Linked DNA regions of Homo sapiens: region 1 is linked to region 2. Evidence: fine-mapped expression QTL. A gene starts in region 2. The other region holds a variant in brackets. All regions are shown on one strand. Distances are from middle to middle.

Region 1 (2,906 bases), 40 kb after region 2:
CAAATCAAAGGCACCGTGAGATACCACCTCCCTGCCACTAGCATGGATAGAATGAGAAAGACTGTTAATAACAAGTATTGGTGAGGATGTGGAGCCTCTGGAACATCTGTATTCCTGCTGGGATTGTAACATGGTGCAGCCTCTTTGTAAAACAGTTTAGTGGTTTCTTTAAAAAGTTAAATGTTTTCATATGGTCTAGCAATTCCACTCATATATATATACACCCAAGAGAACTGAAAACATATGCCCCAGAAAGGCATATACACAAATGTTCATAGCAGTATTATTCACCATTGTCAAACACTGGAAGCAACCCATATGTCTGTCAATTGATGAATGGATACACAAATGTGGTACCATACTGTAAACCAAAGAGTATCCGATACAAGTCTTGATCAATTTAGGAAGTTTATTTTGCCAAGGTTAAGGACATGCCTGTGACACAGCCTCAGGAGGTCCCGATGACATATGCCCAAGGTGGTCAGGGCACAGCTTAGTTTTATACATTTTAGGGAGACATGAGACATCAATCAATATATGTAAGATGTACATTGGTTTGGTCCAGAAAGGAGGGACAACTCGAAGCAAGGAGGGGGCTTCCAAGTCATAGGTAGATAAGAGACAAATGATTGCATTCTTTTGAGTTTCTGATTAGTTGTTCCAAAGGAAGCAATTAGATATGCATTTATGTCAGTGTGCAGAGAGATGATGTTGAGCTCTGTCTGTCCTTTGTCCACAGGAATTTCAGTAAGAAATAGGGCAGTGGAGATTTTGAGGTGGGGACTTCCTTATACAGCATATTTGGGGCTGGATCCTTAGGAAGAGGATTTTTAGCTGATCTGAATAGAGGGAAGGAGCCAGCTTGTTGGGGAGAGGAATGTTTTCCAGACTCGAATGGATTTTTGCGAAGACTGGAAACTTGCAGACGGCCAGGGGCGGGGGATCCTGGCAGGGGCCAGGTGGTCTGAGCACATGTGTTTGCAGATGTAGGGCCTGTCCCCACCATCCTGGGGGCATAACTCTAAGGACATTGCTGTTTTTCCAAAGGGCACACGTTGCATAACTTACTTTAAATAATTTCTTTTTGTAGGACTCTTTGATTTTGCAACTGCATTTTTAAGCTTAAGAGGAGGTCATTAAAAGATCTGGCACTAAGCTCACCCTCCCCTTCTTATTCCTTTGAAGCCATTGCTGTGAATTACGTGAGGGAAAGATATTGAAGAGGAGTTGGACACTCCGAGAGTGCAGCTGTTCTCCCCC[C/T]GCACCATCCGTGTCCTGCATTCTGCGAGTCTGTGCTCATTAACAATGTGCTGTGACCATGTGACTCAGCAATCCTGCTGCTGGGTATATACCCGAAAGAAAGGAAAAGGAAGCCAGTATATTGAAGAGGTATCTGCACCCCCATGTTTATTGCAGCACTGTTCACAACAGCCAAGATTTGGAAGCAACCTAAGTGTCCATCAACAGATGAATGGATAAAGAAAACGTGGTACATATACACAATGGAGTACTCTTCAGCCATTAAAAAAATGAGATTCTGTCATTTGCAATAATATAGATGGAAAAGGAGGCCCTTATGTGAAGTGAAATAAGCCAGGCACAGAAAGACAAACATCACATGTTCTCACTTATTTGTGGGATCTAATGATCAAAACAATTGAACTCTTGGACATAGAGAGTAGAAGGTTGGTTACCAGAAGCTGGAAAGGAAAGTGGGGTTGGGAGGAAGGTGGGAATGGTTAATAGGTACAAAAAAATACAAAGAATAAATAAGACCTAATATTTGATAGCACAACAGTGTGACTACTGTCAATAATCATTTAATTGTACATTTAAAAATAACTATAATTGCATTGTTTGTAACACAAAAGATAAATGCTTGAGGGGATGAATACTCCGATTCTTCATTATGTGATTATTATGCATTGCATGCCTGTATCAAAACATCTCATGTACCCCATAAATATACACACCTACTATGTACCCACAAAAATTAAAAATAAAAAAATTAGGCCAGGCACGGTGGCTCATACCTGTAATCCCAGCACTTTGGGAGACTGAGGCAGGTGAATCACGAGGTCAGGAGTTCGAGATCAGCCTGGCCAACATGGTGAAATCCCGTCTCTACTAAAAAATACAAAAGATTAGTTGGGTGTGGTGGTGGGCACCTGTAATCCCAGCTACTTGGGAGGCTGAAGCAGGAGAATTGCTTGAGCCCAGGAGACAGAGGTTACAGTGAGCCGAGATTGTGCCACTGCACTCCAGCCTGGGCGATGGAGCGAGACTCCGTCTCAAAAAGAAAACAAAACAAACAAACAAACAAACAAAATATTGAAAACCACAAACAAAAACCCAATGCGCCTGACTCTCCCGACATGTGAACCCACAGCGATGGACCTAGACTTCTCAAGGTTTCTCGACTCCTTTTATACCTGGTTCAACAGGTGGCTGCTTCTTTCTCACGTTGGGGACTCACACTTATGTGGTGGCCCTAGACCCCCAGCTCCCACGTGGGCCAGGTTTCCTCGTGATGTCCAAGGCCTCTTGAATTCTCCCCGTGCAGGGTGAGCAAAGACCTTGTCTGCTGAAGATAAAGTCTCCCAGGGGTGCTTGCTGAAGGAGGGAGAGAGACTTCCAGTTTGCTAGCAGGTGACAAGGGAGACATGTCTGCTCTCCTGAGGGGAGAAGGGGAAGAGGGAGAATGGCCAATGGAGGTGCGGGAGGGGCAGCTATTCCTCGGGGCCCACAAGCCTAGAAGGACAACTTGTGTCTTCTTGGCTGGGACTGCTCCCTTCTCCACCAGCCCCTCAAAGGGAAAGGGCAGAGCTTGTTTTCCTGGGACTATGGAGTAGACTACAGGCAGCCCGTAGCAGGGAGGTCGGCCCTGCTTTCCTCTGGGTTCTCTG
Region 2 (2,906 bases):
CCCAGGGCCTACAACAGTGCTCGCCAAAAAATTAATACTCTTGGTTCTTCAAATAAAACATTCTGTAAGGACTGCTCCCAATTTCTTCCTGAACTTCACGAACCCTCCCAGCCAGGCCACAGGATGTCAGGGGCAAACACCCTGAACCAACGGAGCTCAGGTTCCCTACCACCCCGCCCAAGCCCGCTCCAAGCCCAATTACCCTTCCCCTTCCTCGTCGTCCCATCCTCCCTGATGCCTCTTCCAGGGTGCTGGGCCGCGCGGCAAGAGCTCCAAGGCAAGATTCAAATGCCCTGGGGAGACGGCTGCGGGACACCTGCGGCGGGGCCCGGCAGGGAGCGCGAGACTGGAAGAGAGGCCAGGAGGGAAGGAGAGCGACGCGGGGTTTTGGGGGAGGGGCTGCGTGGGGCGCTGAAGGGGAGCGCGAGGAGTGGGAGGAAGTGAAGGAGGAGGAAGAGCACGGTGTGGGGGAAGCGCAGGAGGCAATAGGTGGGGCGGGACGGAGGGCAGGGCGCTGCGTCGGGAGAAAGTGTAGAAGCGCTGGGGAGAGTGCCCACGACGGGAGAGCCCAGGGGCGCGAGGGCGCGGGAGTGTGGGCGGGGCGCAGTGGGGATGGGGGCGGGGGCGCGGGATGTGGTAGGGGGCGTAGTGGGGAGAGAGTGCAGGAGTGTGGGCAGGGCGCAGTGTGGGGAGGGTGCGGGAGTGTGAGCGGGGCGCAGTGGAGGGAGTGCAGGATGTGGGCTGGACAACCAGTGGGAGAGGGCGCGGGAGGTGGGCGGGGCGCAGTCGGGATGGGGGCGGGGGCGCGGGATGTCGGCGGGCCGCAGTGAGGGGGAGGGCGCGGGAGTGTGGGCGGGGCGCAGTGGGGGAGGGAGCGGGAGTGTGCGCGGGGCGCAGTGAGGGGAAACTGTGGAATGTGGGCGAGGCGCAGTTGGAGAAGAGTGCGGGGATGTGGGCGGGGCGCAGTGAGGGGAAACTGTGGAATGTGGGCGAGGCGCAGTTGGAGGAGAGTGCGGGGATGTGGGCGGGGTGCGGTGGGGGAGGGTGCGGAGATGTGGGCGGGGCGCAGTGGGTGGAGAGTGTAGGGATGTGGGCCCAGCGCAGTGGGGGACAGTGTGGGGATGCGGGCGAGGCGCAGTGGGGGCGGGGGCGGGGATGTGGGCGGGGCGCAGTGGGTGGAGAGTGCGGGATGTGGGCGGGGCGCAGTGGGTGGAGAGTGCGGAATGTGGGCGGGGCGCAGTTGGGGAGCTTGCGGGGAATGTGGGCGGGGCGCAGTGGTGGGAGGGCGCAGGAGTGTGGGCGGGGCGCAGTTGGGGGAGGGTGCAGAGACCTGAGGGCTTGAGGTTGCCTGGCTGGCCCCGCTCCCAGAGGCGGGTGCCGCGCTGTCGCCCAGGTATCTGGGGTCTCTGGTGTCTGAGTGTCTCATTGTCGGCGCGAACACAATTGCTCCAGCCACAGGCGAGGCCTGGCCAAGGTGTGGGCGCATCTGGGGCAGGTCTTGAGAGGTCCAGCGCCCGGTGGTGCGGACAGAGGCGGGGCACCGCGGCGCTCGCCGCCGCCTCCCCGCAGGTGATCATCCTCCTGCAGGTGTCCTCGGGTCTCAGGTGGCTGCGTGTCTGCGCCATGGTTGACATTCTGGGCGAGCGGCACCTGGTGACCTGTAAGGGCGCGACGGTGGAGGCCGAGGCGGCGCTGCAGAACAAGGTGGTGGCACTGTACTTCGCGGCGGCCCGGTGCGCGCCGAGCCGCGACTTCACGCCGCTGCTCTGCGACTTCTATACGGCGCTGGTGGCCGAGGCGCGGCGGCCCGCGCCCTTCGAAGTGGTCTTCGTGTCAGCCGACGGCAGCTCCCAGGAGATGCTGGACTTCATGCGCGAGCTGCATGGCGCCTGGCTGGCGCTGCCCTTCCACGACCCCTACCGGCAGTGAGTGGGGGTCCTGGGGGGGCGGGGGCCGCCCGGCACGTCTCCCCCATGTTCCCCCAGGCCTCCCCCTCTGCACTGGGGAGCTCTTTATGACGCCCCCCCCCAACACCTCCCCGTCTCTCGGTTCACGTCCGGACTCCGGTAAATCACACTCAGTCTCAGTTTCAACCTCTCTTGGAGACCAGGGAGGGTGCAGACCAGATTCGAAAACCCAGGGCATCGGCACCCCAAGGGGGCTCGTGGAGCATGGACGCGGGCGCGTTTCTGCCTGGGGTCTGGAGCTCCGGGAATCTGCATTGCGAAGGAGCTCCCAGTGGTGGTGATGCTGTGAGTTCGCGGGCTCGGCTCCGGGAACCGCCGGCCCAATCAGCCCTGGACTCCCGGCGCCGCTGCGTCATCCTCCCAGTTAGTGGGCAGGAAGCACAGGGACATGACCCGGTGTCTGGATGCGGGGATGAGGGATGACCCGCGAGGACATCAGCTCTGTGACAGGCACCCACAGTGCAGGCCGTGGTTGGTTTGCTGGGAGGGAGGGACGGGGGCTTCAAGGCTGGCAGGAACCCAGGTGCTGGCCACCTTTGCGGTTTCATTTTTACCGACACTGATGGAATTTCATCACTAGAGAAGCATAAAACTCATTACTATAAACTTTATTACTCTAACTGTTGCAAAGGAGGGGGTAGGGATTGGCAGAGAGGGGATTACAGGGATTGATTGTTCTGCTTTTGGGGTGGGTCTCCTGTGGTCTCCTATGGTGTAAGAGTCCAGACTTAGGTTTAAAGCAGGCCTCGTCAAGTATGTTGTCCTGGCCACCCCCTTCTAGGTACCAATGTGAATTTCTGGGTTTTGCTTTACAGCCTCACATTTCTGGAGATTATCATTAAGTTGTGGCATTACCCCCTAAACTGATTATCATGAGATGACATTCCTTCTGGAAAATGAAAACTGGAAGCTAACTTTGGAAAGTTTTGTAGATGAGTA

The links. PIP is the estimated chance that this variant, and not a neighbour inherited with it, causes the effect.
Region 1: its variant is fine-mapped to the expression of NXNL2 in prefrontal cortex (BrainSeq, PIP 0.92).

What each region holds. Positions count from the first base shown.
Region 1 is chr9:88,573,902-88,576,807 of GRCh38, forward strand. It overlaps a transcript of NXNL2 not described here. Among named protein-coding and RNA genes, the nearest start is that of NXNL2, 40 kb to the left of the region's middle. The variant C/T (reference allele first, on the strand shown) is at 1,261.
Region 2 is chr9:88,533,812-88,536,717 of GRCh38, forward strand. It overlaps NXNL2 (nucleoredoxin like 2), which reads left to right and starts at 1,367. Exons shown (of 2, transcript NM_001161625.2): 1 at 1,367-1,925. The coding sequence starts at 1,624. It overlaps LOC105376134 (a long non-coding RNA gene), which reads right to left and starts at 729. Exons shown (of 2, transcript XR_007061653.1): 1 at 203-729. RefSeq lists enhancers at 1,153-1,987, 1,988-2,821.